Linked DNA regions of Homo sapiens. The protein of the gene in region 2 purifies or fractionates together with the protein of the main gene of each other region. This does not show direct contact. Each region holds a gene or a part of one and is shown on either strand. Other genes may lie near its edges. The genes, in order: ZDHHC17 and FAM135B.

Region 1 (16,842 bases), on a different chromosome or scaffold from region 2:
AAAATTCACCATTAGCCCTACACATAGCATGCTCTTGTTCAAAGGATGTGGATTCGAGTGTGAGAAAGACACGGACAGACACAATTTTCAGGCACCACTCAGCAATATGCTTCATAGGATAAGATGTCGCTACACCAGCTGGTACCCAGATCCTGATATTTGGTCATATTCTATTGTATACTGCCTGGTCCAGTCCACGATAACAGGACGAAAGAGGCCACAGCATCGAAATTCAAAGAAGTCTATAATATTTCTTACACATCCATGGCTAAAAACAGCACCCCAAAAAGAAAACACGTCAGTCAGTACAAATGATTTAATACATGAATTCAATATAATTTTCGTGTTAAATATATTTTTTTCTAAACTTAAAAACTCAGGTTACTTGCAAGAAGGAACCAATTCATAACTCTATAAAATATATATGCCTTCATGTTTCTCCACTGCTCTGCCAACAATGATTTTTTCTTTTGCCAATTTAAAGACTTACACAATTATATTTTAAATTTATTCAAATGTGCATATACTTTCTGTGTTATATGCATTTTTATTTTTATTTTTAGAGATGAGGTCTTAACTATGTTGCCCGGCCTGGCCTCGAACTCTGGGCTCAAGCAATCCTCTCACCTCAGCCTCCCAAGTAGCTAGGACTACAGACATGCACCAACATGCCTGGCTCCATATGTAATTTTTGATAAAAACCTTTAATTAGTGGCTCTTTGGCAGGAGACAAACTATCTCTAAAACAGAAAAAAAGTAAAAGACAAAATAATTATAAATAGCATGAATCTGGCAGTGAACCTAAGGATAACAACTTAAAAAAGAAATGTCAAGGATAAGTTCATGAAATTTTAGTACTCCAGTAACACCTTTAGAAAAGCAGTCAGTTTTGGCCAGGTGCGCACCAGTGGTTCACGTCGGTAAGTAATCCTAGCACTTTGGGAGGCCGAGGCGGGTGGATCATGAGGTCAGGAGTTCAGGACCAGCCTGGCCAAGATGGTGAAACCCCATCTCTACTAAAAATACAAAAACTAGCTGGGCGTGGTGCATGCCTGTAATCCCAGCTACTCAGGAGGCTGAGGCAGAGAAGTGCTTAAACCCAGGAGGTGGAGGTAGCAGTGAGCCGAGATCATGCCACTGCACTCCAGCCTGGGTGACAGAGCAAGACTCTGTCTAAAAAAAAGAAAAGAAAAGCAGTCAGTTTTGTGCCTTATATAATTTTTGTACCTATGGGAGAATTCTCAAAACTACCCAACTAACTCTGTTTTTATTTAAAGGTCTGCTTGCTTTCCAGAAGTATGCCATAATTGACAGCACCACAAAAGCTGAAGAGTTGGTAATAACTTCAGTAAAACTCAAAGTTTTAAATATTTCATATACTTAGGACCCTACTATTTCTAAGCACCAGACTGAATACAAATTTAAAATTAAAAAGAAAAAAATATAAGGAGATATCACAACTTTATTATATACAGTTAATGTGATGAATTCTGTTTTGTTGTTATTATGGTGAACTGATGCTATTTCTACAGAAATCTTAAAAAGGTTTAAAAGCTATTTTACATATCACTAAGTAAAAGAGTCTGGTTAGTAAGAAAATTTTTATGACCAGGTAAAATATTAAATTTATAAATATGTACATACTTGAATGGGCTTTCAATAGACGTTGTTGTGACTTTAAAGTGCTTGTATCTCCTGGCATTCATTCTTTCATTTGTAGTAATACCTAAACATGATATCTAAGAGGAAAGAAAAAGCAAACCATTATTCTTGTTTTTTTTTTTTTTTTTTGAGACAGGACCTTGCCCTGTCACCCAGGCTAAAATGCAATGGCGAATTCTCAGCTCCCTCTTGGGTGGGCTCAAGTGATTCCACCCCCGCCACCTCCCCCCACCCCAAAACCCCCACCCCACCAGCAGCTGGGATTACAGGCGCATGCACCATGCCCGGCTAATTTTCTTTTTTTTGTTGGGTTTTTTTTTTTTTTTTTTTTTTTAGAGATAGGGTTTAACCATGTTGCCCAGGCTGATCTCAAACTCCTGGGCTCAAGTGATCCGCCCACCTCGGCTTCCAAGTGCTGGGATTACAGGTGTGAGCCACCATGCCAGGCTGCACAAACCATTATTCTTTCTAAATACTTAATATAAAAAAATTAATTTGAAGAAAACTAGGATAAAGATAAAAACAATGAAGTCTGTTTTTGGTTTTCCATCAGGAGATCATCAGAACTAGTTTACGTGGTATCATTTGACTGTGAAAAGTAGCCAGTTAAATGTGGAAAATATTTAAAGACAGGTTACTTGACACTGTGCATGGACAGGCGCTATTCCTGCACAGACAACCTCCCTATCAGCCTCTCTGAGAATGAGCTTTTAAAAATTAAAAAAAGGCTTTTGAATAAATATTAGTATTTGTGAATAAAAATACCATTAAAAACACAAAATTAATGTCATCATCAATCTGAGCTCACACATACTCAACTGGATGTATTTAAGTCAGGAATAACAGATTAAAATTTCTGTTGAGATAAGTACTAAAATTCAAAAGTTCACAATATGAGAAGAGGAAGGGGCAAAAGAGTGAGGTAGAAAGGAAAACTAAATTGAAAAATAAAATGAATATTTGAAGAGCAGGAGTGGTTAGGAAGAGAATATATTATTATCTTTTATGCAAGGATGGAAGAGTTTTCACTTAGTGCACTAAAAAGAATGCCTTTGCACATACCTGGTACATCTGACACATGAGTAATACAGCCACCCACATGAAGTGGAAAACACTGTTCAGGAACATCCAAAACATCCAAGGTGAACACGTGGCAATCTGAGTAATGTATGTCCAAAATCCATCCTTGGTGTAAGTGGTCTCACAGTGGAGTCCCCAGTCTAAAGCCAGAACAGAAGTACTCGTATTTACTCAATAATCATCCAAGCACCTCATATAGGCATTTGTGCTGGCACCATTTAGAAAACATAGTCAAACAGTCTAGATTTAACTGATGACATTCAATAGCAAATGTCTTTATACTCTTAAATAACCCTATTATATCTCAGTGAAAAAACACAGAAATGGAAAAGGAGCAGCCAATCTTAAAAAAAAATCACTGTATCTTCAGAATTAACAATTTTATTTGATTGGTATTGCATCACATAATACTTAGAAAAACATTTTCTTTACACAAAGATGAGAGGATATATGAAAGAGATTTTTTTGAAAGAGGGCATATAACATAATAGGATGGTGACATGAGCTTTTTTTTCCAGACAAGGTCTCGCTCTGTCACCCAGGCTGGAGTGCAGTGGCTCAATCAAGGCTCACTGCAACCTCGACCTCCTGGACCCAAGCAATCCTCCCACCTCAGCCACCTGAGTAGCTGGGACTACAGGCATGCGCTACCACACCGGGCTAATTTTTGTATTTTTTGTAGAGATGGGGTCTCTCTTCCTACGTTGCCCAGGCTGGTCTCAAACTCCTGGCCTCAACTGGCCCACCTGCCTCTGCCTCCCAAAGTTTTGGGATTATAGGCAATGAGCCACCATGCCCAGCCAAGGTAGGCCTTTCCTAATACAAAATCTCCTGCTGTAGGAGAGTTGCTATAAAATACTGCTGTTGTTGGCAAGAAAGTATTCTCCTCAGGTGTGCTGGGCCAGAAATTAGGTCAAGTTCTTTGACCAAATCTTCCTATTAATCTTTAACTGAGGTGGTAACCTCCTTTGGTTCATTAGGGCAATAACACTGATTATTTTTACTATCTGTGGGGCAGGAAGACTAGAAAATCATCCTTCCAAGACTTGTATTTAAACGAGGATCTAATACATCTTTATGCCAAGCACCACCAAGCCCTGAGGCATCGTAAGTGACGTATCCACTTAAACTCTTTCCAGACTGCATTCTCAATGCAACAAAAATCTATCATTTCCTTTAAGGTATAAAACCCACATGATGGAATAACAACTTATTCTTAAAAAGGTAACTTCTGATATTTACTAATATTCTCTAATAGGCAATAATTATACCTTACTTTTCAAAATATTTCAAATTCTCTGCAAATTTAATTTTAAGTATATTTTCCCAACTGCTTGGTAAGAAACAGAACTAAGACAATCACTTAATCTATAAGCTACTATAGTAAAGCAAGCACATGATGTGGAAAATGTTGATGTATTTCACCCAGAAGCTTCTCAAAGCCTATTAAACCAATATGTTTTTCAGAGGACACAAGTATTAAAAGGTGGTTAACTGCTAACTGTTTGCTTACACTGTATATTGGACATAATTGATAGAGCTGTATCTTTTTTCCCTTTTGTGCTTCATAAGGTGTCCAAACCATAATTTTAGTTAAACGACCTTTGTCATTATAGTAATTTGTTAGTGTGGTAAGTATAATCTAAGTATGCAGAAATTTGTTTTAAAAAGACCGAAAACTAATTGTACTCACAAGATATACAACCATAAATCATCCAGCAGATCATAAAAAGCAAGAAGAATAGGTAGCCCATAAAATATCTATGGTTGCCTGCACCTGAAGAACGACACAGAAGCAAGGTTTTTCAGCTAAGAAAAAAACAACGGGTAATGCACCTTTGAGGGGTATGCCATGAAAGGTGTGCTACAGTTTTGATGATAATCACACATACATTCATTATTTTATAAAGTGGTTTTCAGGAAAAATGTTTTAATAAAAATCTTAAATAAGAATGCTTGCAATTACACACAAAGATATAATGATGACAATGGTGTTCAAGTCCCAAAGAACTAAATAAATCACAATTCTGACCTCTAATCCTATTCTTTGTGAGGTTTAAAATAGCCCTATTTTATCTTTACTTTTATAAACTTTACAATCCAAAGGTTTCTCTTCAACAGAGGTAAACAATCTTTGTAATGTTTCCTGTCACCTCATAAAATCTCCGGGGCATGTCTCAAACCATGTAGTTTCTCTCCTTAGACTATACCATTCTTGAACACTAATGTGTGTACTGTTCTTATCTGTCATTCCTCTCTACCTCTGCACATAATATCATTTCAAATATTACCGCCTTCATCTCTCTAGTTTAACTAGAAAAAAAAAATTTTGCCTCCTTATCAAGAGTAGGCACCAGATAGAACTGACAGAGAAAAGGTATCAGCCACTAATTTTGTAATTTTTTTCCCTCCCTCTCTCAACTGAGTTGCTGTGTTGTCAACCAGAAGATAACTGAGAAAATGAAGCGTGGAGTAATAAACTTTCTATTGCCTACTTTAATATTATACTTTATTCATTACCTAAAGTAACTTAAATGAATGATACAGAAGAAATTACTAATACAACTTACCTACACAGTTACCCACCCATGGGCAATGATGATCAAATTTTGCTATACAGCGGTTGCACACACCACAATGTTTGGACCTCACCGGTTTTCGTATCTGTTAATAGGCATGTTAAAGGATTATGAAAGGCATTATACTAAGAGAGAAAAGCTGACTATTTATTTTCTCAAAATATAATTATAAAAAAATAAAACTATATTTTTTAAACAAGATTATATCAAGGTTTCCAAATGAATGAAACCAAAAGTCACTATTGTTTAATAAAATTTCAACTGCAAAAACAAAGAATAAAAGAATGAGGCTACTCTAGAAAATATGCTCTTAAGAATGGAACTGAACCATCAATTTACAAAAGCTAAGAATTACCAATTTGATTTGATGAATGATGCTATGTTTAATTCACATCCCTCAAATTTCTGAGTAATAAAAACATATCAATCTCCAGTCTTCTAAATGATGTTCCATTATGATTAATGGTCATGATATTGGTGTTTTTCAATAAAATAAAATTATTCCTTACTAGGAAGGTCAGGCTAAAAGTGAATTTAAAAAGCTCTTAAAATTCAAAATCATCAATAAAATATTTGTCTTCCCCAAATTAACAAATCCAGCAAAAACCCATATGTACACATCTATTTCTCTTCAGTAAAGTGCCTTCTGAGATCTCAGATTAAGGTACAGCATTTCTCCTGCTGAAATGACCATATTTAAGAATGCAGAACATGCTTAAGAAGTCACTATTTCTTGCAAAAAAAAAAACCCCATATAATTCATTATTCAGCTATTGACAGGCAATAAAGAATCCATGCTTATGATGTCTGTTTTTCAAGCATTTTGAAATGGTTTTTAAAACCTACATTACTCTAAATCAGCCAAGTGAATACAAGAACTCATTGGTGATCTTCAAAGGGCTGGCAGTCCTAATGCTAGACATATGATAAAAGAGCTGCAGTTATTAACTCTTGCCAGAAAAAAATTTATAAATATACTTCAGCGTTTCAACAAAAGCACTGCCATTTCTCCATTAGTTTGCATAAAGTTACACACTATTTTGAGGTACCAAGGAAAAGGCACAGTGAATACACAGTTCTTACATCTACCAAAATTATCTGTGGAATAAAGAAAAGGGTAAGTTATTCTTCACCACAGTTGTTAGACTAAATCTACTTAGGAGAAGGCAGCAGGATATTCAAACAACTTCTATCCCCACTTCCAACCCTCAGCTGCAACACTGTCAAAAATCTGAAAAACAGACTAACTGGTTAAGGTGTGACTTGGTCTCAAGGTTCCTTGGATCACTTACAAAGTAATCCTTTCTTTTTTCTTTTTTTGAGACAGGGTTTCACTCTGTGGCCCAGGCTGGAGTGCAGGGGTGCAATCAACAAAGTAATTCGTTTTTAAGAAAGCTCTGATCTACAAGCCTTAGGGACTTGTCTACTTACCAAAGTGAAGCATACCCATATAATGACAACTACCTCTGCTGATCTGCAAGATTTTATAATAGGAAATCTTCTTTACAACAAGAAGTATGTGGCTTATAAATAATATATAATAAAACATTTATGCTATGATGACAAAATTAGTCTTATTCTTGCCATCAAATATGTATTTGACAATGAAACTGCTATCTGTATTGAATGACTATATAATTTGTTTGCCATATGGCAAGTACATCAGCACTGCATACTTTGTGGAACAGTATATTTCCACAGAACAGCAGTGTATTAAAACATTCTAAATATTAAGAAAAAGAATATCAATTTTGTAAATTACCCATTGTAAAGCACAGAAACAAAAACTGTTTTCAGAATGCCGGAATATATAAAAGAATCTGGTCGGTATCCTAAAGTTGCTACCAAACATGAAGCTGTATATATTTTGAATATTCAAAATCATAACTGGTCAAAGAATATTAAGTGTAATAAAGAATTTTCAGAATTAGAACTGTTTCAAAACTTCATTCCATAATCCTAAATGAAGTCAATGACTTTATTATTAATCAGATGCTAAGACATGAGCTCACTTGCAGTGTATAAGTATAAAAGAGCATTTAGTTTTATGTATGACTTTGGAATATTTCAATTTCCATGTAGAAAAACATAATTTAAGCACTGTGGCAGTATATATATTTTTCACAAATACTAATTATAAAAACTAAGTGAAAAATAATTTAAACATAAGAGTATTATCCTACAGAAAATTAATGTCTATAATAATAAACAATCTCAATAGTGCTATACCTGACTCTATTAATAAATACTAGTAATTTCATATATATCTTTACCTATGACCTGGATGAGGATGACCACTTTAAAAATCTATGATAAAACAGTGTTCAAAGTTACATAAACATTCTGATACAAAACAAAACAAAAAAAACCACCTACTCAAATTGAACTTGTTTAGAGGCCATGTTGTCTTAACAGTTATCTAATGGATTTTCCCATGTGGCTTTTAAATACAAGTATAAATTTTCTTAAAATGTAGTAAAGAAAACAATCTATTAGGGAATCATTATAAATCTTTGATCTGAAATACTTTATTACTTAGTTTTTAATTTATTAACATTTTAAGCGAGAAAAGAGAAAGAGAATGAATACAAATAAACGGCACCTCCGAATCAAAAGTACAGTCAAGGCCTACCATCGAGGAATAAGCGCCTTGGGAAGCAGACATCCTTTAACCATCTTTCCTCTTATACCAAGAAGCAGGGAATGTGTTCATTGAAAATAATTATTCCTTTTCCCCACACCCCATACCCGCTATGCTATGCCACTGTCAGGAGGAAGAGAAGGGAGGGAAGAACAAAGAAGAAAATACTACCAAACAGGTACTGCAGAATATACTGAGGTCCAGACTTCCTGTCTCTGCAAGTTCAACTATTGTCTGTGAATTAAAAAAATAATATTTAATTCAAAACTGAACAATGCTCACCAACTCTTTTGCCACCACTATGAATCAATAAACATGATTTTCATCTTTAATTTACTGATGTTTTGAGTTCAAAAAGAGAAATAAAATCTTTTATTTACTGCTATTTCATTGCAAGAAGAATACAGGGTAGCAATCTCTATGCTGCCCAGAAAAAAGGGGATTAGACCATAAGAATCTGCCATTGTCTTAGTCAATTGTGGACTGGAATAACTTATCAAAATTTGTCCTGTTTTTAGAGACTAAATAAAACAGCTCTTAAAATAATCTAAAATGCTTCTAGTCCAGTTCTCTAAATACACAACATTGTTAGATTATAATATTGGTTTCCTAATTACCTGCATTATAAGAAAGGGATGCCCTGGATGGTATATACAAATATTTTAGCTACTGGGATGGTGTACCTGCACTATCAACCAATTTATTAACCTTCTAGTTTACATAGTCATTCAGCAAACATCTACTGAATGCAAATTATTTCCTGGAGATTTACAGAGATGTTTAAGACACCGTATTCACCCCTCAAAGCAATCACAGCAGTCTTGTAAGGGAGAGAAACACGAAATTATAAAATGTCATGGAAGTGTTATGGACAGGCATCACAAGAGCACCAAGGATGAGCACCAAATAAAAGATACATAATCTCAATTTAGCTTAAAACTTCTTTACATTCTAAACGATAGTTAATTCCTCTGTCCTCTAATGTCTGCTGTAAATACTGATAATCTGGCAGTTAAATACAAGTGACTTAGTTGGTATTTTGCTACCTTTTTCTTTTGCTCTTCTGTTGCTTTAATAATCCCTGGATCTGATTTCCAAGATTTTCCAAAATTGTAGAAAAGTGCAACACTATTGGCAAGGAATGGAAGATGGATAAATAAAAAGTTGAGATGTGCCTAAGGTTAAGGAATCTAAAGAAGCAATGATAAATGAATTACTATTATATATAAACTTATAATCTATAAAATTTTACAAAACACCTACCAGTCAAAAAAATACAAACTGTTCTGCATTATGTTTATAACTACATGTAAAAATAATGTGACTTCTTTATAAATTTTAAATCATGCAGACTTATCTGACACTTTAAAAGTTAGTGAATATATTAAAAAGTCAATGAAAATTTTTAAATGACTAATTTTTTGACAAAAATGAAGAGATTTCTCATGTTCAAAGTTATTAACATATACTTTATGTATATGCACTGCAATCTTTAGGCATCTACCAAATATTACAGATATCATACTCGTATATTTAAAAGATTGCTTTTAACTATAGGAAAGTCAAAAAAGAAAAATTCTCACTTTTGCCTTTTTTTGAACACACTGAAATTGATTTCAGAAAAAATATAAGCTTGCTTAAAACAAATAGTTTATATGTTCACATTTTTTCTATCTCATAAAAACGTAAGAAATATACTAGGCATTTATAAACACAAGTAAATTATCAAAAAACAATTTAAATAACACTATAAAAAATACAGCAATGTCGCTAGAGCAATACATTTCTGAGACACAAAACACCAGGTATACTCAAATACCATTTGTAAGATTGTATGTAGATACAAGTATTATACAAGAATTTCATAAGACTTTTTGACATTATCATGTGTACCCACTGTTTACATTTCTCATGAAGCACAGATAGAAAAAGAACAGCTTCTTGAATGAAATCATTCTATATTTGTTTGGAAAATACCAGAACACTCAATAGCCACTTGACATACAGGAGAAACAAAAGACGGAAGAAAAGATTAGTTATTATCACCTGGCATATTCAAAAGTGACTTATCTTTTCCTTTTTTCTCCAATCCTCTCTTTTCCCCCAACTTTTTCCAATCTTATTCCACAAAATATACCGGTATAGCCAGCAGAGAGTAAATAAGAAGTCAAACTTTCAGCTGTTTATTCTGGAGAATAAAGTGTGCAGAATGCTGAGGCTTGACATTACTCAGGGGCAGCACTTTTATTTATCACAAGTTTTGAAAAGGTGCCAACGTAACATGTAAATAAATAAGTCAAACTCTCAGGACCTGGATTAAATTTGCAGGGGGTCAGCTCAATATATGACTACATATTTGAAAGGTATATTAAGGAATTAAATACTGAATGAACTTTAAAAATGTCTTTCCTTGCTCTTTAATGATAAAGAAATTAGGTATCTTCAAATGGTAGACTGAATTTAGCTTTAGCAATAGATTAGACGAGCTAATTTTAAAATTTTAACTGAAATAGGCTGGACGCAGTGGCTTACACCTGTAATCCCAGCACTTTGGGAGGCCGAGGGGGGTGGATCACCTGAGGTCAGGAATTCGAGACCAGCCTGGCCAACATGGCAAAACCCTGTCTCTACTAAAAATACAAAAATTAGCCAGGCATGGTGGTACACACCTGTAATCCCAGCTACTGAGGGGGCTGAGGCAGGAGAATTGCTTGAACCTGGGAGGCGGAGTTTCCAGTGAGCCAAGATCACGTCATGCACTCCAGCCTGGACAACAGAGTGAGACTCAGTCTCGGAAAAAAAAAAAAAAAAAATTAATGGAAATAGGCACACTCTATGAATATATGGCTGTTTTCAGTATTAATTTTATTATTAGAGAAAATGAGAAAGCACTAAAAAAAGCATAAAGACAGAAACAAGAACTCTACAACCCAGAATTAAACTTCTTTTAATTTTGGTATTCTGCATTTTTAATTATGACTGGTATCATAATGTATCTAATTATTAACAAAATAATATATTAATCACCAACTATGTGCCATTTAAGCAGCACAAGAACCCTATGATAAATCCTGCTATTATCCCCACTTTACAGATGATACGACTGAAGCAGAAGCTACACTGTCCAAGATTACAGAGTGAGTTAGAGGTAGAGCAAGTATTAAAACTCAGACTCATATGACCTATGCTATTCGGCCTCGCCAAAGTGCTCAACACAATTTCCTATGCCAATAAATATTATGGAAACAATATATTTAGGTATAAACATTTTTAAGGCTTGAGATATAAATATACACAGACACTTTTATACTATTTTCCAGCAAGATATACCAGTTTATAACCCCACTAACAACACGACTGATCAGTACATTTGCATTAGCAGTAATGAAAAAACGCTGCCAATTTAAGAGGCAAATACCTGCTATTTTATCGTTTTAATTTACATTTTTGCTTTTATGTTTAAACAGCCCCCGAATTAAAGACAAAACAAGTATTTACCATCAATGTTTTCACTTAAATGTTTATAGAATCATTTTTTACATTTAATTCTTTAATCTAGTTGGATGTTTTCTGGATGTCTGCTATGAAATGCAGCTCTCATTTTATTTTTAAACAAATTTATCTAGGCTTTCTTTCAAAAATAGAAATTCATACACTAAATTTATTTACCATAATACTCAGCAAAATGAATTAAAAACAGTAAATCAAACAAACCAAGTGCCTCTCAAAATACTGGCAACAACTTCAGAAAGGAGACAGACCACATGTATCATAAAGTTCAAAACTGAAGGCCAAAAAAGATGATGATTCTGGCGAGGCAGGCTGCCTGAGGTAGCTCCTAATCCTGCTCTACCTGTACTAGCAGTATGAAAAACTGTAGATGTGAATTCTCACCCATTTCACCCTGGCCCTTTGCTATGGACTAAATTGTGTTTCCTCACAATGCATATGTTGAATCCCTAACACCTACAATCTGACTGCATCTGGAGATGTGGTCTTTAGGAAGCAATTAAGCTTAAATTAAGTCATAAGGGTGGGAGCCTAATCCAATAGGACCGTGGCCTTCCTTATATAAAGTAGAATGAGAGATTTCTTCCTCTTTCTCCTCACCATGTGAGAACACAGCAAGAAAGTCATCATCTGCAAGCTACAAAGACTGCCCTCAGCAGAACTCAAACTTGCTGGCACCCTGATCTCAAACTACCAGCCTCCAGAACTGTGAGAAAACAAATTTCTGTTGTTAAACCACCTAGTCTCTGGTATATCATTATGGCAGCTTGAACTGACTAATACATACTCCACTCCTCAGTCCCACTCAATTGGAGAAAAATAATTGAAATGGTGAGTAGATAATTTGAACAAGTCAAGAAAATCCCTTCAGGAACATAAGTCCCTGAATACCACTGCATGGCTTCCACTAAGTATCAAGAAATACCAAGGCTTGTCATTAATAAGGTGACTTAACAAAATTGAGGGGATGGCTGGTGGGGGATAATTCTGACATCATTCTATCTCTAAGGCTGCGTAGAATAAAACCTCAGGAAAAACTTTCAGCAAGATCTTAAGACAGCTAAACCCAAGTTTCTCAGCAAGAATTTACAATTGAGCTCTCTTTTTCTTAGGCTACAGAAAAATGAATAGAAATTTAGCCAAACTGTAACACTGAAGGCAGACATACAACTTCAATATCCTTGTACCAAACAGGACAGGAAAAACTTCAAAGATTACTCTAAAATATATCAGAGAAAACATAAAAGTCTGAATATATTTGCCCAGGTCAATCACGAGCAAGATGAAAGATGAAAAGAAATGGCATAACAACTATGCTAGTGTACTTAAAAACAAAACAAAAATAATAAACCAGAAAAAATGTGCACAGCATTCACAAAGCAAATAACCCAGTATGGAAAGCAGCCGCAAATTTGGACAAAGACAAATTAAGAACAAAGGCAAATTAACCAAAGATGCTTCATAATTAAATTAAAATATAAATCCTATAAAAGCTTAAACATAAGATCATAAAACAATTAGAACCAGATGAAAAGCGTGATTCTAGAAAAAAAACAGACTGAGATCAAACAAAAACCATTATACAATATATGAACTAAAAATTTATAAAGATGAACACAAGGAGGATAAAAACACTGACAATCAGTAAATGAGGGAAAAAAGAAAACTCAAAACAATAATTAGAGACAAAAACTGGACATGGTGGCATGCACCTATAATTCCAGCTACTCAGGAGGCTAAAGCCAGAAGATCACTTAAGCCCAGCAGTTCAAGACCAGCCTGGCCAACATAGTGAGACCTCCATCTCAAAAAATAATAATAATGATAATAATAAAGAGTAGAGACAAAAGTATGAACACAGATGACAAAGATAATTCAACACATGGATAGTTTTATCCCAGAATTAATAAATACATCAAACAGAATTCAGAGATCCTAACAGAAAATTTCAGATAAAAGAAAACCTTCATTTTTATAAATTACATATAGTATACAAATATAACCTCCATTTTAAATACTGCATCCTGAAAAGACACACTGTATATTAAGAAAATCTGAGGGACAATGATTAACATCCTCTGAAACATACTGGTTGTTTTTTAATCTCAATGGTAACAAATGTGTTCTTAAGTAAAGAGTTTTTTAACAGAGACAAGGTCTCACTCTGTTGCCCAGGCCAGAGTGCAGTGGCATAATCATATCTTACTGCAGTCTTGAACTCCTAGGCTCAAAGGGTCCTACTGCCTCAACCTCCTGAGTAGCTGGGACTATAGGCACGCACCACCACACCCGGCTAATTTTTTTAGTTTTTGTAGACCCTGTCTCTACTAAAAATAGAAAATAGCCAGGTGTGGTGGCACATGCCTGTAATCCTAGCTACTTGAGAGTCTGAGGCACAAGAGCCACCTGAACCTGGGAGGCAGAGGTTGCCCTGAATCAAGATCACGCCACTGCACTCCAGCCTGGGAAACAGAGTAAAACTCTGTATCAAAAAAACACAAAAACCTGAATCATTTTAAATGTGTTGCTGAGCTGTTAGTAAGAAAACCCCATGGAGACCAGAGATGATAAATAAACAAAATCTAAAGGTAAACTGGTTCAGAAATGTAGTGTCCACTCTTCAGGATTTGCTTATTCCTATATGCTATTTGCAAGAGACATGTCGAAAATTCAAGGCCATAAATTATTTAAAGCAATACTAATTAAAATAAATAGTCATTGCTAATGCTTTTTACCATGAGTCACTACATATTGATACAAGGTTCAATTCATTAGAAAGAATTCTAAACTTACACATACTTAATAATGAAACTCCAAAATATGGACCACAAAGAGAACCTCCTAAATATAGCAACACGGTAGAAGATTTTACCATAGGTCGCTCAATAAATGATGCTGCAAACAGATAAAAATTTGGTAATGATACAGTGACTTGAGCAACCCAATTAAGAAGCTTAATCTTCTGTATGGAATGCAGCTGAGGTAGCATACAAAATGTTACTTTTTAAACTTAAATGTTTCTAATAGAAAATATCAATGAAAACTAAACAATTTAATAAGCTAAAGAAAAAACTAAACAAGCAGACAAAAGGAAACAGAACATACTGAAAGTGAAAATAGAAAGGATTAATAAAACCTAAAGTTGTTTCTTTGAAAAATCCAATAAAATAGATTAGAAAATAGCTCTAATTAATACCAGGAATGAGAGGGGGGCACAGCAGCTGAGTTTAAAAAAACAAGAGAGAATGTAGCACATTTTAAAAGAAAAGAAATGGACAAATCACTAAAATATATATATATATACAATTGAGTCAAATAAACTATATATTACAAAATTCTTTAACATAAAGCAAATTCCAGGTAAAATGATTTTACAAAATCTAATAAACATGCAGTTAATAATTTCAATTTAACCCAAACCCTTTCAAAGAACATAAAAAAAGAACAAGTCTCCACCCATTTTGAGGCTATCATGTTGATATCAAAACATAACAAAGACAATACAAAAAAATTATAAGACAATTTCATTCACAAATGTACACGCAAAACTAGTAACATATTTAATCCAGCAATGTAGAGAAAAATAAGACATTATGCCCATGTCTGTTTACTCCAGGCATGCATAAGTGGTTCAACATTAGAAAAATCTATTAATATATTATTTAATATTAAAAGCATAAAGAAAAAAACATACACAATTCACAAAAAGTTAAAAAAAAGGGGGTGTAGAGGGAGAGGTTATTTATAAAATCCAAGTAAACACTTTATAAAATCACACTCACTGGTAAAATACTAGCCCTTTAAAGTCAATCTTTTAAAGATGATACCCTTTAAAGTCAGGAACAAAATGAGGATGCTCATTCTGTGTCTATTCCACAGTGTACTGAGATCCTAGCTAATAAAATAGGATGACTAAAGGAGCTAAATGCTATAAAGAGTAGAAAGAAAAACAAAATTCAGTCTTTATACATATGATTACCCCATGTCATATATCCAAAATACCCCAAGTTATTAGAAATAATAAAAGGCTTTAGCAAGGTTGTTGTCAATAACTAATCAGCTACATTTCTATAACCCAGACACAAACAGAAATTTTAATTAAAAATAAAAAATTCATAATTTAAAAAAATTAAAATTCTTTTAAAAATAAATCTAACAAGAGATATAAACTTCTACATAAGAAATTATATGACTTCATTAAAAAACATAAAAGGTCTAAGTATCAAAAGTAGTTACTTTCTGTAAATTAATCTACAGCTCAAATAGAATTTCAATCAAAATGGCGTAAGACTGGCTGGACATGGTAGCTCATGCCTGTAATCCCAGCACTTTGGGAGGCCACAGCAGGTAGATCACTTGAGTTCAGGAGTTAAAGACCAGCTTGGACAACATGGTAAAACCCCTTTTCTACTAAAAATACAAAAATTAGCCAGGCATGGTGGTATATGCCTGTAATTCCAACTACTTAGGAGGCTGAAGTGGGAGAATTGCTTGAACCCAGGAGGTGGAGGTGGCAGTGAGTTGAGATTGCGCCAATGCACTCCAGCCTGGGCAACACAGCAAGACTGCCAAAAAAAAAAAAAAGGCCTAAGGCTTTTCGCGGAACTCAAAGAGCTTATTCTAAAAAAAAAATCTAAATGGAAGAGCAAAAGGCCAAAAAGAGCTAAGATATTCCTGAGAAATAACAAACTTGGAAAAATTACCCTGCTCCAATATAATTTAAGAACAAAACTACAGTAATTAGATTATACAGTGTTAATACAGGCAGACAGATCAATAAACCAGTGTACCTAGGAAACATGATGAACATCAAGGTTGAGACTGCAACTGAGTGAAGAAAAGGTGTGCTGGAACAAGGACCTCTCTAATGGAGGGAAAAAGATACTGATCCCTCCCCTCACATCCATCTTCATTTACAGTAGTCAAATGCACATGATTGAGAATGTAAATTATAGAATATCTTTAATAACCTCAGAGAAACTCTTGTGGGAAAAAAAGATATACAGCAATATTATTAAAATTCATGAAAAGTGGTGATTGGATAACTGAAGATAGACATTAAAAAGCTTAGAGGGTATTAAAAGGAAACTGGGAGAGATACACAGAAAACAGAGAAGTCTAACAAGTAACCTACAGAAAAAAATGCTTAAGAGGGAATGCATGGGAGATAACTAATTCTGCACATTCTTGATTTTTTAATATATGTAATCATCCCAGATTCTGCACAGTTTATATCCTTCTTGAGTTTAAAGAAGCTCAATTAACTTAAAGCCACATTGAAAAATTACTTATTTTCAGACATAAAATTTCTAATAAACTTTTGTCAATATTTCAAAAGTGTTGTCAACACAATAAGCAGTTGACTATACT
Region 2 (16,842 bases):
TTGTATTACAGACAGGAGGAGGTGCTTCTTGACGAACTGGTTTGTAATCTGCCCCTGTCACCTTCTGTTTTTATACATTCCCTATCTTGGCACTGATCTAGGGATGGCCCAATGGAGCATTGAAATCCTACACGAATGGTGTGGCTGATGTCATGGCAGCATCGCATCTGGACTGGATTTCTGCTTCCAGACCCAGATGAGAAGCCCAAACCCCAATACCAGGGATGTGATTTGCTTTTATCGATATCAGGATGATATTAGTCTCAATGTTTCCCGCTTGCTCTCTTGCCTCATTAATCTATCCTGCACTATGAATGCAGCCATCCTCTCCCCCAACTAGATTATAAATTATTGAATAGCAAAGTCACATCTAATTAATTTCTGTAACCACCAATGCTTAGCACAGAGCTAAGCAGAGACTAAACGTTTTAAAAACTAAATGTATTTAATATGAGTTATGGGAAAATTGTAAATGAAAATCAAATCACAGACTTTCATGTTAAGTTGTATGTAGAGAAGATAGCATTTGGGGATCAAGTGAAGTCTACTATTTAAAAGGAAATATATGTGTGTGTGTATATATATATATATGCAAAGATATAGGAATAGGTTATCAGATGCACCTTGATTATTATTCAGTTTTCTTTCTCAGGGCAAGAAAAATAAGCAGGGTATTTTGCCATATGCAATAAGTTTAACCTTGGGCTAAAGGACATTTCAATATGTCTTTGCAGTTTGATGCAATACAAAGGATTCTGAGTGACATTTACAGAATTAAATCTTTCAAACACCTTAAATTAGATGTAATACTGCTCTCAGCTATGTGTCAAGCTGCAGCCTTTCCTCAACTCTCAACAATGGTGTACAATATACCCTAAACAGAAAAATAGTTTTATGACATAGATCATTCAATAATGCACTGAATAGACCTGAAAACGTCCAGTCTGGAAGCTTGTGGAGTCACAGTGGAATGTTCTGATGGAAGCTTAAGGCTAAAGTTTCAAACCAAGTAATCTTCCTTAAGCCATCATGTATGAATCACTTTAAAGCCATGTAAGAAATCTCTTAATGTGTTTATTTCAAAGATACTTCCCTATAACCAACCTTTTGCTATAAAACATTCCCAAGCCACTCACCAAGCTTTTCAATGCTCACTCTGTAAAAGGCATTGTTCCAGATCTCTACTTTTCCTATGTTGTTTGCACCCCTGAACTACCTTTCAATTAGGTATTTCCAAGCCTTTCCAAGGAAACTGAGGCCTAAAGATAGAATGATGCTTCCCACTACACGAAATTCCACTGTGATGTCTGAAGAAACTCCTCTTCTCTTGCAAATTCAGAAGCTTAGAGAGTAAACACGAGCCAATGTCAAACTCTGCATTAGCAACAGTTGCTGTGGATGACATGAGGGGCTGGAAAGAAAACATGAGCTTTCAAAGGACTGACCCTTTCAGCAAAGACACATTGAACACCCACTCTGTGTCAGGCAGCGTGTGCAGGATCAGGTGTACTGGAAGAATTAGACATGGTTTCTGCCCTTGAGGAAAAAATATTCGTATGTGAGAGATCTATAGAGACACAGATAAAAATGTGATGAGAAATGAGAAAAGAGTGGGCTTATGGGAACGTGAGAAAACCTAGCTCTGATGGCAAGGCACTGAGCTCAAATTCATCCGGAAGCAGGAATCTGCAATCTAGGAACCATTTATTGTAGATTCAAACCCTATGGTAAAGGGAATGAATCCTGGATGAATACGATCAGGCACTGCAACGTGAGAGTTGCAGAAGGAGATAATGTATGGAAGGAAGAACATGGCCTGGGACAGCTGTGGAAAGAAAGGTGTGTGGTTTTGGAAAAGGAACTCCAGGTTACTAGGAGAAAAGAGAATCTTGAGAAACATAAATGATCAGCAAAGAATGCAACAGTTCATCCAACTACACTGTTGACAATGCTTTATATAACTACCTTTGCCACTAAGTTTTTCTTGCTGTTTAATTTATTGGTTATGTAGATGTCTCATATAAGAATATATTATAATAGAAGGCTCAAAAGGTTATGGTTTAGGAGATGTGGACTTGAACTCTGGCTTTGATTTTCACAAGACATGTGACTTTTACAATTAAGTAACTCTCTGGGTTGGAAAAATCATAGAATAAAAGATAAAATGAAGGCTAGAAGTTCAAATCTTGACTCTACCACTGCTAAACTGTGTAATTGTAGGCAAGTTACTTGACTTCTCCCAGCATCATTTATATGTTGTGTGGGATTAAATGAAACTATATATGCAAAAATCTAACCAACAAATTTGAATATTGTAAATTATTTCCATTTTTGTTCTTCTTCATTTGTTAAAAGTTAGATGGACAAGAGTCCATGTTTGTTTTAGTTGTAAAAGTTTCTGATTCTGTGATGACACAAAGTTTGAGGTTTGAGGACTGTTTTTCTAAAGTACTGTAATCACAACTACATCTATGAAACAATGATACACACAGTCTTTATAATTTGGTCATAAAGAGATCAAATATAGAGAAATAACCTGGTTTAATGATTCGCAAAACACTATTCAGCAACACCCATACATTTACATTTGATCTAAAAGCTCAGTTCTATATATTCTGCTCTTTCTCTTCTGTAACAGAAGTCACTGGGATCCTTTTCCCAATAATTAAAATGGATTATTACAGGGTTTGTGCACTGAAAACTCTGTATTATTGAATACTATATTATTTCCATTGAACATAAAAAGCTCTGGAGAGAGTTCCACTTTTCCAAATTGTCCATAGTGTTTTCTACTGAAACTTAATTAACATCACACATAATTGCCCAGGTGCCATGGAAAATCAAGCTAGAAACAAGTAAAGAAAAAGGTAAAATTGATAAATAAAGGCAGAAAGGGAGGAAAAAGCACAGAAATCCCGAGAAAGCCACCTTAAAGAGTTTGAAAAATCTCCATGGTGGTTTCTCTTCATTTAGAGAGTATATGTGCGTGTGCGTGTGTGTGTGTCTATACACAATATTGTATATAATGTCACCACAATGACCGTGCTTTGTCATATATAGATCAAGACCTGTCTGGTCAAGTGAAGCTGGAAATGCACAGTTCAGGATATAGACATCAGATACAGTCTATATGAAGCAGCCCATTTTTCCTCTTCCAATTCTGATATTCATTATTTTAGACACCAACAGTTAAAAGTAAAACACGGCCGGGTGAGGTGGCTCACGTCCGTAATCCCACCACTTTGGAAGACCAAGGCAGGCAGATTGCCTGAGCTCAGGAGTTTGCGACCAGCCTGGGAAACAAGGTGAAACCCCGTCTCTACTAAAAATACAAAAATTAGCCGGGCGTGGTGGCATGCGCCTGTAGTCCCAGCTACCCAGGAGGCTGAGGCAGGAGAATCACTTGAACCCGGGAGGTGGAGGTTGCAGTGAGCCAAGATCGTGCCACTGCACACCAGCCTGGTGACGGATCCAGACTCCGTCTCAAAAAAAAGAAAAAAAAAGTAAAACACTCAGTTTTATCATTACCCCAGATCCTTCTAGTGTCTAGGATGACATGATTTCCTAGTACAGTACCCAACACAAAATAGATGTTCAATAAAACATGTAACAAATAAGTGAGTGAACAATTGAAATAAAATGATCCAGATGCTAGCGTGTAATGCTATATTGGGATGGGTGCCTTGCGAGAAAATTAACAGAAAGCGTAATTGTTGTTCTATGTGTTCTTTGCCATGGCCACACTTCTTTTTTCCTTCAGGACCCCCACAACTGTCCCTAGCAGCCCTGGTTATTTCTAATGCTCAGAAATATATGCTGTGAAACCAAAGCTAATGGCATGGGGGAAAAAAAGTAGCAATTACATTCAGGAGCTTGCAAATACCTGAATGCAAGCTTTCAAATAAGTAGCCATGTGCGTAGAGAGAGATGCCATCATCTTACACAGCGAGAGCCAGCTGAACACTTGTTCGCCTCCTAGCACTTTTAAAGGCTATTTTTCTTCTTTACAGAAACACCTTGGTTATGTGCCATTATTTATAGTGTGTTCTTTGCCATTCATGTACTACATGGGTGATCTCCCTGTTGGTTTCTCCCAAAGCTCCTTCTGGACATGGGCTTGGCCACACTCACTGTGCCTATAACTTTCTGCTCTCTGTCTACTTTCCCCTTGCATGTATACCCTCCATCAGGATGGGAAGATTATTTTATTTTATTTTAGCTTTACGACCAACACCTGGCTTGTGCCAGGCTATTAGGAAACATTTGTGGCCGAAGGAAGGACTATAGTTTTGACTAAGTTACCCCAAGCTTGTGGGGGCTGCAGACTGCTTAACTGTAAGCTGAGGATTGAATAACTTTCTTTATAAAATTTTTATGATCAAAAGCAGCTTGTGTGATCACCTTAAATACCAATACAAGAATTTCACTTTATTGCTTCCATGCATTAAAAAAAAAAATTTTAACCAAATGACTATTCCCTCTTCTTAGCCTGTTTATATAATGCCATTTGTTACAGTTTTTCTCCATGAGAAGCCCAGCAGACATGTCTACTATGCTTCTCAAAAGAAAATTTCAGAAATGAGTGATGGTGGAGGATGTGGCTGGACTTCTCCCAAGACAGGAGGGATCAGATCTCTAGCAGAGGGTGAAGCATGGAGCGACACATGATGGCAGGGGCAGGCCTTGCTCTCCCAGGGGCTCTCCTTACCAAGTGGAAATTGTCCTGCTAGTGTTAACAATGGAAATTTCCTCCTGATAGAAGAAGAAAATCCTGCATGGCAGCTGACTTCTCACACCTCTGTTTTGCTACTTTTGTGCTCAACCATATTCTCCATCTGCCTTTGCAGTGGTCAAAGGTTCCCAGCCCTCAGCTCTCGCCTGAAGCCCTCTGCTCATTCTGTCCCTCTTGGAGGGATCCACATAACCCACCTTCGCCGAGCCGGCTCCTACTCAGCCTTCGGGTCTCGGCTTAGACACCAAACCCTCCCAAAGGCCTTTCCTGACCATCTCTACCCCACATCCCTGCTGTAGGTGGATGCCCCTGCTCTGAGCACACACAGAACCATACCCCTTCTGTGGGGCCACCCACTTCGATTTCCCATTTGATCAGCTGTGTTCCTTGCTAGATGGTAAGCTACTAAGTTTTACCAATGCATCCCTGGCACAGAGTAGGTCCTCAAGACAAACTCGCCAGATGAATGAATGAATGATATAATGGAAGAGTGCACACTGGGGTGACGGGCTGTGCAAGGTAAATAGTCTCACCTTTCAAGTCTCACTCTCAACGCTTCCTTCCTGGCCTTCCCCAGGCAATAAGGAGTGGATACCTAGGACCAAGGAGCACCAGCCCCGGCCTTCCTTAGCGCTTTTGTTATATCCCATTGTGATGATAAGACCGGATCTCCCTGGAGTTCCTGGTCAGCATGGACTGTGCATTTTACCTCTGTGCTCCCATCTGGCACAGATGGATGGAAGCTGCTCAGTAGATACCTGTGAATTGTGGAAGCCAACAGGGGGCTTTTCCGTCTTCACCTTCTCTCAGGTTCACAGCACTCCCTCTGCTTTCAAACTGCCATTGGGGTATTTGTTTTGCTACAAGATGACTTTGGGTTCATACCTGCTTCCCTGGATTTATTTGGCTTATAAACAACAAATTCCAATTAATCTCAATATTGGGCATTTTTATTTCTAACTCATTTTGGGAAACAACAAATCATAAAAACAAAAACAAAAATTACGCAGAGAATGAAGACATACAAGACCATTATCTTGGCAGGCATTTTGTTTATAATTTTTACAATCAATAATAGAATGTCCCTGTTTTACATAATATATATTTATATATATTTTATGTATATATATTTATATATTCGATATCTATATTTCAATAGAAAGAGACATAAAAAAGCCTTTTCAAATGAGGCATGACACGCAACACTCGACACTCTTATTTACAATATAGAGATGTACTTTCTACACAATTATAATAGATGCTCAGAGGCCAGAGAGGGTTTACAAAGACAGCAGAGCACCCCTATAAAAAAGAGGTGCACCATGCAGCTGGACGTTTATTGCCATTAGTTCTCACTATGTCCAGACAGCATATTGAAGTTAAAAATGGCATCTGGTTATTGGAGAAGATGATGATCATCAGATTCATCCCGGCTCCATAACCGCGGGCTACACAGTCTTTCAAAGGACCAGGGAATGACGAACATTGCTGATGAAAATTGGAAACACAACATGAAATGCACTCATCAGAGGGACAGGGCCCATCATTTGGCCAGAAAGGAGAAGCTGCTACCAACTTATGGTTCTGTACTGAGCATGGGCACTTGCCTAGGTCAGGAAACACAATACCATGTGCTGCACGACTAGGGAACAAATGTCTCCCAGGTTACAGAGCAAATACAGCACTCCTCATGAAGAACCAGAGTCTATGCCCAGCTCTGACTCGGGAGCTCAGATAAAAATCCCCAGTGGAAAGTGACCAGAGGACTCAGTGAACCCATATGCATTATGACCAGGATATAACAAGCATTTAGAAAGGACTCACTGAGAAACCCTAAATCCATTGTGTGGAACTCTGCCTTTGCAAGACATTCAACTCTCCCTCAACGACCCTCTCTTTCTTCAAAAGAATACCACATGTCTACACTCCTGCAAAGCTGCCCATCTGGACTCATTCCCATGGTCTGCTTTTATTTTTCAAAGTCACATTGTTAACATAAGAGGATCTAAAATTCTCAAATGAGCTTAGATTTACTTGGTTTTGTTACCATGGCATCAGTGACCTAGAGTCATGGTCTAGGTATTGAGAACCCTGGTCCTAGATGCGTTTCCACACTTCAGAAGGGATTTTTGCAGAAGCAGGAGCTTTCATCTCCAAAAGATTAGGCTCCTGTCTTACTTATCCCTACTGTCCAGGTTCATTCATCTCTTCCATACAACGAAATGATTCTTTAGGCTTACTTTAGCCCATACAACATACTCAGTCTTTGAGACCTGACTATTAAACATCCTGGTAATTTTCAAAACTCCCCTTTGAGTCACTTACCAATAACAGCTTATGTTGAGTCTTCAGTCTGGTTGTTCTCCTCCTATCTGATCTCACTTTTGTCCCTGTCGTCTATTGGTTTTTATCAACGCAGTGACCTTTCCTAGCCCTTTATTTTCCTAAGGCAAGAAGACATTTCTATTGAAAGATAGCCAGCACCCTTCTTAGAGCTCCCCTGAGGTTTTAATCCAGCACTCCTCCATTTAGATGTTTTCCTCCTTCCATGGAGAGGAGAAGCAGCTGGCCACTTTAATGGATTTAATTTTTTGCAATTGCATCAAATGCTAACATAGCATGTCTTTGGAAGTGTATCAGCAGGAGCTTCACACGTGTGTGCATTCATCTCAGTGCCCCCTTCTGCTAGGTTAGTCTCACTCAGTGTTCCCTACTACAGACAAAGATGTAAGCAATCACTAAAATAATTTGTGGATCAGGGCTCTGCATAGAAGAATTCTGGGGAAGTAGGTGGAGCAACTATTCATAGTTCAGTATGTCCCTAGAGTCATGTTTCTTTGTAACAAACTTGTATTTACCAATAGTGTCACCTTTATCCCTCTTTACCTTAAGTCACCCTGCTCACTGCTGTTATGAAATAGAACTGGGATTTGTAACACATTCCTTGCTCCCTTGTTTAGAAAACATGAGGAGAGAATATGAATATGGGCATCACATTTTCTTGAACAACTGACACATTTGAATCTATTGAGGATTCTATTTACACAAATATGTTCCACTGCTGCACAGAGATTAACCTGAGTTCTGAAATGCTTGTGTGCACTTAATCAGAAATGATAAAGCTATAAGCTAGTAACATATTCGGCAAGTCTAGTTAAATTGGAGTAATCTCTCAGTAAGCCAGTAGTGGCTAGCAAGGGGAGCTCACCAACTCCCAAGTATTCTGTTTATTCTCTCATATTTTTCCTAGAAAACATCTTGAATGACACTCCAGGTAACTATACAAATTCAAGCAAAGTTTGTTGTCATTTAGTCTATTTGCTCAGCTTTCTCGAATCTCCAAAACAAAAGCACCTCTCATGTCAGGTTCCACCCGAGCCTCCGTCCCCCAATGCTGTTGAAGCTTCATTCTGAAATGGTGAGGTCTGTAAAAGCAGGTCTCAGCTAAAGCTCTCCACCGATCGTAAGCATTACCAAAGACCTGCTCCCTCAAAGCCACTACTTGAAGTAGTTGAGTCCTGCCACCAAGAAAAACTTCTCCAGGAAGAGTTCTGAATCCAGCACAGCGATGTGAGCGGCTCGGCCGATCAGGGTGTTGGCAGTGTTGGGCAGGGCGTGGAACACGTTGTGTCGGATTAAAGTGCAGTCCTTGGCTTCAACCAGAGGGCCCAGGAGGTTGTTGATCATTTCTGCATAAACTGGCCCTGTAAAGTGGGGAAGAAGGACATGAAGCTGGTGCAGAAATTAGCAGTGGAATCTAGAGAACATCACTAGATGTGTGTCGAAATTCTGTTCCTGGGCAGACCTGTTATACAGCAGTTTCCAACCTCTTCCTAATGTTAGTGAAATTAATATGAAATAAAATCAAAGTTCTCTTTTTCTAGTCAGATGACAATAGCCAGAAGTCAGAAGGGGATTCCTAATAGCGGCTTTATGAACCCATGCACCGGAAGTTATGATAGCAGTGTTCGTGTTTCTCAATAATAGCTGTACCTCCCAGCAGGGTAGCAGAGAAGGAGGCCAACACCAGAGAGGACCCTCAGAGTTTCAAGTTCTATTTCAGGGGATCTTGGGGGTTGGAAACACAGCTCAATAGAGAATTGAAAGCAGACATTTTCTGATGTCATGCATAATGGAAGCCATGTGGCATTTCACCCGACTCCTCTGATTCCAAAGAAGGAGAATGCAGTTTTCTTTATGTTGGTTTGTTTTGTTTTTACAATTGTTAGTCTGAATTGACTGTTTCCACCTGAAAGTGACACAGTTGCAATTTTGCTTCAGGCCATGGAGGTCTTGGAGCCATGCAGTGCAATTGAATTGCTGAACAATAGATAGATTTGCACACCTGGATCTACGATTCATATCTCCCAGCCCTGTGTTCTTCTTTTCTGAAAAACTGTTTATGACAACTTTTGTATCATTGACAGACACTTTCTGGAATGATCCTGAGAGCTGGGATATTTTACTTTTGACCAACTGGGGAGACAGTAATTGGAAGTTGTAAGTCAGGTGAGCTTCTGGGTACCCACTCCAAACAACCGGGTCTGTTTTACAAAGCCAGTAGAGCAGTCACTTTGGATGATGAAAGAGAGCTTATTCTGAGTTTAACAGTCCACAGCCTCACTCTGGACACTCTCTCATGCCACGTGAAGGAACTCAACACCGTTTTCCTTTTCCCTCCAGTTATCAGCAGGGGAGAGTACTTAGAGGTCTGCTTTCCCAGACTGGGATGGACAGCTGGACCCCCCCATCACGCATGGGGTATGTATTTGGGGGTGTTTCTTTTCCCCCCCTTCTTAGGGTCTTGGTAGGAGCTTTGACGTAAAGGGAATTGTAACGTGAAATTGAAATAATTAGGGATTTCGTTGTAGCCATGTCAATTCAGCTAAAAAGAATTTGGGGTTAAAACAAATGGTATGGTCATTCCCAAGAGCCCATTAATGTCTTAGAGTAGCGGTCATTACAACAGGCAATAATATGATGTGAGGTTATGCCACAGTAATTTTATGTATGAAATAGTCCTTCCAAGGGAAAAGGGAGGTCAGCCAAATTCAGCATCAGAGGAATAGTTAAGTAAACCATGCTTTGTGGGCTAAACAATTCTGTGCTCCTTTAAAATGATGTTTATGAACATTACGTAATAATATTTTTTAAATGATGTATGTGAATATTATGTAATAACAAGAATAATGAATAAATGTTGCCAATAAATGGAAATAGAAGCATATATTGTTACACAAATACCATAATTTGTTTAAATTGTATATGCAATAAAGGTCAGAAGGTCATTTATTTAAAGAAAAAAGTCACTCAAAATGTAGTGATTACTCAACCAGATCATTTTCTGCTGAGACCTTGATTGGTTTCATAAGCCCTGGAGGCAATCACTGGTATATTTTTTAACATTTATAGCAAACTCTTATATGTTTTCTCAAATACAGCACTGTTTTTAAATTGATGGACTTTTGGGATAGGGGCAAATTATCTACATGACAATGTAGAGAATAAATTGGAAGGTTATGTGAAGTCAGAGAGGTTGAGAGGTATTTTATTTCAGAATTTTTGAAAAATAAAAATATTGGTACTTCTTCCAGAAAAAAAAAAGTGATAATCATGTATAAACTAAACTTCATATCAAGTCTCCCAATCTGTTTAATTCACCAATTAAGCCACACTTCTTTGATGTCCGTGTAAAAATGTAACAGAAAATATAAGTTTAACAAAAGAGAGGGCGATTTTTTCTTAAGATGACTAACAGGAAGATTAATCAATTTAAGTCATATATTAATATCCTTTGAAGATACACTCCCTTTTCCTTAAATGGCCATTGTGAATATCAAATAAGATAAGCAAAGCGCATGAATTGTGCCCGGCCCATAATAAATACAATTTGCTATGCTAGAGCAGGAGTTGTCAGACTTTCTCTGTAAATATTTAAGGCTTTCCAGGACGCGCAGTGTAACTACTCAACATAATTCTGAATTCTAGCGTGAAAGCAGCCATATACAATATGTAAATGATGGGTGTGGCTATGTTTCAATAAAACTTTATTTACAAAATGAGAGATGGGTTGAATTTGGCTTGTGGACCATAGTTGTTGAACTCTGTTCTTAAGGCTTTACCAAGGTTGAAATGTCAACAAAAATATTTCTCTATGTCAGGGAGACAAGAAAGTAGGCAAGGAAAATTAGCAAATCCCTGCACAAAGAAACAGTTTGGCTGTCTATTGACCACAGCTATGTTTAGTCAAGTCTGAACTGAAAACCAGATCATTGACTCTTTATTTATTGTCACAGGTCTTAGCATATAATGATGTCCCATGGGCAATTAGAAAATATTTAAAAATGGATTAAAAATATACATAAAAAAGCATCAATATTTAAAAATTCAGGCTGAAAAATTATAAGCAAATATCTTTAAATTAATATTTAATCTGAGAGACAGTAGAGTGAGATAGGCAGGCACGAATATACTCTAACAGTACACGTGTTGCTGGTATCAATATTTTAGAAGGGAATTTGGCAAAAAACTTTAAGAGTAGTAACTCATTAACATTTTCCTCCAATAATACCACTACTAGAAATCGATTTTAATGAAATACCATAGATGTATTAAAAGTTTACACATGCAAAGTCTTTCATCACATAATAACTAAAAAGGAAACCTTCCAGAAGCAAGCTCTATGTGCAGTAATTGAGAAGTTGTTAAATTATGGTATATGCATATAGTCTATAATTATTAAAATGTGTTTGTATTTATGATATTTTATTAACATGGACAAATAACTATATTACTCTAAATCAAATCATGACACAAAATTATAACATTTATCATGAACACACATGAAGAGACAGACTAGAAGAACACGAAAAGTAGGTAGTGATAGAGGTGGAGTTAGAAAGGATCATAAATTATGTAAATGAGTTTGACTTTTTCAAATATTCTATAATGTTTTTAATCAGAAAAAAAGAATCATTTTAGAATATGCCCTGTGTTACTTTTCATTACATATACTAGATGGTATAAAACACAATGCTATTTTATGTATTAAAACTAATTTTTAAAAATTTTTTCATCAAAATTCCTGTTGGATTTTCTAGATACCAGGGAAAATTTGGAATAGACCCAATTATATATTAGCACCAAATCTTTGGACCTTTGGTACACTATTTTTTGATAGTACCTTAAAATATAACAAAACTACTATTTACTTAAAAAATAATCAATATGCCTGACATAGAAATATACAAATTAGATTGGATTCTGGAAGAGAAAGGGGACATTAGTGGACACTGACATAATTTAGATAAGGTCTAGAAATTAGATAATAATATTGAATCAGTATTAATTTTCTGATTTTGATAATGGTACAATGGTTATGTAAGATGCTAATATTGGGCATCAGAGTGAAACGTATGCAGGAATTTTTTGTACTGTTGTTGCAACATTTTTTGAGTATAAAATTGTTTCAAAATTAAAAGCTAAAAACATGTTTTTAAAAAAAAACAATTAAACAAATTAACCAAAGGAAACCACAAATGCCAGCCCACATCCATCTTGATTGTCTGGAAAATTCCTACCTATCCTTTAAAACCTAACTCATTGTCATCTCCAGGGATCCTCGTCTGACTCTGTCCTATGTCCTGTTCCACTTCTGGGCTGCCTTAATGCCTTAGGCATTATTTTATTTTTTGACTTATCACATTTTACTCTCATTGCTATTACTTGTCGAGGCTCCAACTAGACAATGTGCCCCTTGAGGGCAGGGCCTGTCTCATTGAATTATACATCCCAGTCATCAATTTCAGTGGCTGGCACACAATAGGACTGAACAGAAGTTTCATAATCTAATAAACATGTGACTGTTTATTACACAAAGGAAGGATCTGGCACAGTAACATCGAGATGAGCTATGTTTGTCCTATCACTAAGCTAAGATAAATGCAGCACTAAACCTATAGCCCAGGTGTTCCCAATAGGCAGTCAATTCCATGAATTTACTTTTGCTTTTCAAATTAGAAAGTCCCTGAGCAAAAATTAAATGTAGCTTACCTGTGTGTCTGTCTTTGAGGGCAGTTTTACACATTTCAATCCTGGCTGAATGAAATGGCACATAACGGTCTTGGGGAGAAGCAACCAGCACGACGTTTTTAAAATACTGCAGCCCTGTAAAAATTAGCCAGATGAGTGCTTTTTACCCAGGTAGTTTCAACTTCAACACCCTCTGGAAATTTGCACAAATTTCCAGACTTGTCCTATAGAGAGAAAAAATGTTGACACACCACACACTAGTGTCATCACACAAGGACATTCTGTCCTGAGGTTTAACAATGCACAGCAGATGGCATAGAGGTATCGCGGGGGCCTATGGGAGGTTGAGAAAAGAAGTCACTAAGCAGGGGCTTTGCGTTTGTGAGGGGAGATGAAGCCTGCTCTCATCAGCCATGAAAGCTAAGGAGACACACAGAAAGCTACTCTGGACACAGAGAAATAAGCAACTAGAATGGGACCAAAAAAGCCTTTTGGGGATAGAAATATTAAGGGGTTCATAAGGAAAAGTCAGTCTGACTATCTTGTTCTTCCTCCTCAACTCCAGCACCTCTCCTAATTCCAGCCTTCACCACGTCCCATGCTTTAGGAAAACAGCCTCAGAACTCACCTCTCTGCAGCCAGTCTTGCCTTCCTGCAATCTGTCCCCACAATGCAGACAGAGGGACCCTTCAAATTAAACATCACAGTGTATCCCTGCAGGCCTCAGAGCCCATCGTGAACTTCCTGAGCACTGCAGACTACCCGGACACTCCATCTGTACTGAGACTGTCCTTCTCATTCCCCAGATCCTGCTGGGTGGGCGGCTGTCAGCTCTTAGCTATGTGTGCCCTACTGAAGTGTGGGTCCCCTCATCAGACATCACACATTGGGGGCAGCCTACTTCAACAGCTGGCCAATACATGGGCGAGGAAGACAAAGGTGTAATGGTCAGCCCCTCCCCTTCCTTCAGGACAGCTCTCCAGGGCCACCCCAGCTCCTGCACCCCTGATGGACTCTACAGTGATCACACTGCAGTCCCACCTTCTTCTGCCAAGCCCTGCCTCCCTCCTCCTCCTCCACAGGAGATAGCTCTAAGAGCTCAACTCAACACACAGAGGCAGAAAGTAGGAAAGGAACTCAGCCAGGCTCACAGATGAGCCCGTGGCTACACCAGATTCACAGGCACAGAGGGATCAGCAGAGTCAGTGTTTACAGGACGGTGGAAGATTGTGACCAAGAACAGACCCTGGGCCAGGCCAGCTTGTGTGGTGGGACTGAGCAGGGCAATCAGTCAGCTGCTCCACTCGCCGACTGGACATGGGGACCACTCGGCAATGATCACCATTACTGCTGTCCTCTGTGGACATTCCCATGTAGCAGGTAGGGTCTTCAACACCTCTATGCACTTCCACATGACAGAGAGAGGGTGCAGGTATCATAGCAGGCCTGCCTGACAATGACCCCCGTCTCCCACTGCACAGTCAACATCAGTGGAAAATGTTGCATCTGCCTTTTTTGTAGATGGGCCTGTACCTGGGTGAAGCTGGCACACAGATCTTAGGCCTATGCAATGAGAACATTGAAAAACTGGCACAAAGTGGAAGCTACAGCTTCTGGCTATTGAAATGATCTTACACACACCTTGGCTCAATCTCTCACGTGCCATATGGGCAATGGGCAAGAGGAGCTGAGTTCCTGGTAGCTGTTGGCCTCCCAATGAGCCAAAGAGGCTTTGAGTGCTGGGCCTCCTGACTAGGCCCTTCTGTGAGTGAATCAATGTAGCATTATATCTCATTTGTGTCTCAGGAGTTGAATCCCAAGCTCAAACTCATAACTGCAGCTGTGGGGGAAACCACTGACCTGTTTTTTGGCTTAGTTGGTAGAGGAAACATTTGCGCAAATCAGCATTATCCCTGAAGGTCAGCTGCAGTAGAGACCCGGATTTCTTCAGTTTCTGCATGAGCCATAAGCCTAGGAAGACAAAAACAAAATAAAAATCAAAAACACAAAACAAAACAAAAACTAACTGGGATGGAATTTTGGTGAGATGAACGTTAAACTGAATTTTAGTTAACTTGAAAATAAGAGAGAAGTAGGCATACTAGCAAATAGTTGGGAAGTTAGAGGTAAATTTGTCCTCTCACGTACTGGTGGAAAGGACTTAAATCATCCTGCAAAAATGATGACAGGACAACAGCCTTCGGAGTAAGAAACTACCCACACTCTTCAATCCAGTCAATCTCCTTCCGAAAAAGAAGCCTAGGGTAATAATTTTCAATGCGAAAAGAATATAAAATGATCCTTACAGATACATTTAGGATACAGTAAAGCTAAAATAAATGTCTCACTTCACAACTCATCTGTTGGCTGGGCATGGTGGCTCATGCCTGTAATCCCAGCACTTTGGCAGACCGAGGCGGGTGGATCACCTGAGGTCAGGAGTTCGAGACCAGCCTGGATAAAATGGTGAAATCCCGACTCTATTAAAAAATTAGCCAGGCATGGTGGCAGGCACCTGTAATCCCAGCTACTTGGGAGGCTGAGGCAGAAGAATTGCTTGAACCTGGGAGGCAGAGCTTGCAGTGAGTCGAGATTGCACCATTGCATTCCAGCCTGGGCGACAAAAGCAAGACTCTCTCTCAAAAAACAACAACAACAACAAAAATCTCATGCGTTTAGCTAAGCTTAGGCAAACACTAACATTGATGAGTGTAAGGATTACATAACCACAACAAGCAAATTAATCTGATAGAAACACAAGGAAATAAGCAAGCTATGGTATGTACATATATTACACTGACTGCTACGTCAATGTGTGTGCACAAAGATAAGTAGAATGAAATATATAAAATTACTCTGGATATGCTAGATTGGAGATATTATTGGTAAAGTCTGTCTTTTTAAAAAATATTTTATGATGCTGCAAGATTCCTTTATAACTGTGGGGGAAAAATGTAGTTTAACAAATTTGTTTCTGTCCAAAGAATGGCTTCCTTGGTTTGGGAGGAAAGACAGAGTGCAGAGGAAAGGACTTCCATTTGTTATGTGCCATTGTGTCGGATAACTCATGTTCACAAGTATGCCATAAAATAACTTAAAAGCAAACTAACTAAACTGACCAGGCCATGAGGAAACAACGTTAGTGTGGGAGAGGACAGGGGACAGTGGCAGAGGCCTGGAAGATTGCAGGGACAAGGAAGCTTATCAGGGGTGACCCTAATGCCACATAATGGGTTTGAACAATCAGGGACTACTGAGGTAGTTGTTAAGAACATGATTTAATAAACGATTTGTTATTACATATAAAACTCAATGCCCTCCTTGGGCTTCCATACACCAAACCATGTCACCTCCTCAGTAAAATCTCATGAGTAGTATCTACAAGGTCTACAGGGTAAGTCTAACATATTCTGGAGTCAGTCGAGGTCCTTCTTTGTCTGACTCTTGCTGATATATTTAACCTCCCATAGATGTTAGTCAACCTTATTTCCTTCCCCTGTGTAATCTTCAACAATTCTATGATACACATATGCACATATGCACCTACACACCATATATATGTATACATACTTACATTGTGTACATGCTTGTACACATACATATATGTATACATACATATACACAAACACAGATACACACACACATAACCTCCATTTTACAAACAGGAAGACTGAGGAGCACAGAGATTAAATGTCTAGGCCACAGTCTCCCTCAAGTGTCCTGGTCAGGACTTAACCACAGGTTTGTCATGCAGGTGGCCTGATTCAGAGTCCCTGTTCTCTTCATCACAACACCGTGTCTTGTCAGTCTTTTCCAACCAGGACCCCAGAGACATTGCCTTTTTTTCACAGAAATTTGAAGGCAGAAATGATCCTGGAAAACATCTAGTGTCACCTCACTCAGCCCCCAGACACAAGGGCCACACCTCTAAGGCCAGGACTCCTCCCTCCATGCCATGCTTGGAAAAGACTGCACAGTCACAGGGTTCCAAGTGGAAGTACCTGTGCCCGGTTTCACGCCCCAGAGGCCCCAGATTAATTCTGAGGAATGACGAGTCCTAGAAGAATCTTACCTGTACT

Evidence for each region.
Region 1: the proteins of FAM135B (region 2) and ZDHHC17 purify together in Homo sapiens (affinity purification with mass spectrometry; 3 studies listed by BioGRID and IntAct, with this or other methods). This does not show direct contact.

What each region holds. Positions count from the first base shown.
Region 1 is NC_000012.12:76,834,273-76,851,114, reverse strand, and holds part of ZDHHC17 (palmitoyltransferase ZDHHC17), read right to left. Parts: intron 9,134-16,842; coding exon 9,009-9,133; intron 8,197-9,008; coding exon 8,134-8,196; intron 5,407-8,133; coding exon 5,313-5,406; intron 4,520-5,312; coding exon 4,436-4,519; intron 2,883-4,435; coding exon 2,725-2,882; intron 1,740-2,724; coding exon 1,645-1,739; intron 269-1,644; coding exon 130-268; 3' UTR 1-129. UniProt on the Homo sapiens protein: Palmitoyltransferase that catalyzes the addition of palmitate onto various protein substrates and is involved in a variety of cellular processes.
Region 2 is NC_000008.11:138,124,363-138,141,204, forward strand, and holds the end of FAM135B (protein FAM135B), read right to left. Parts: coding exon 16,836-16,842; intron 14,735-16,835; coding exon 14,624-14,734; intron 12,988-14,623; coding exon of another isoform or gene 12,947-12,987; exon of another isoform or gene 12,905-12,946; intron 12,899-12,904; coding exon 12,785-12,898; intron 8,437-12,784; coding exon 8,231-8,436; 3' UTR 5,661-8,230; downstream 1-5,660.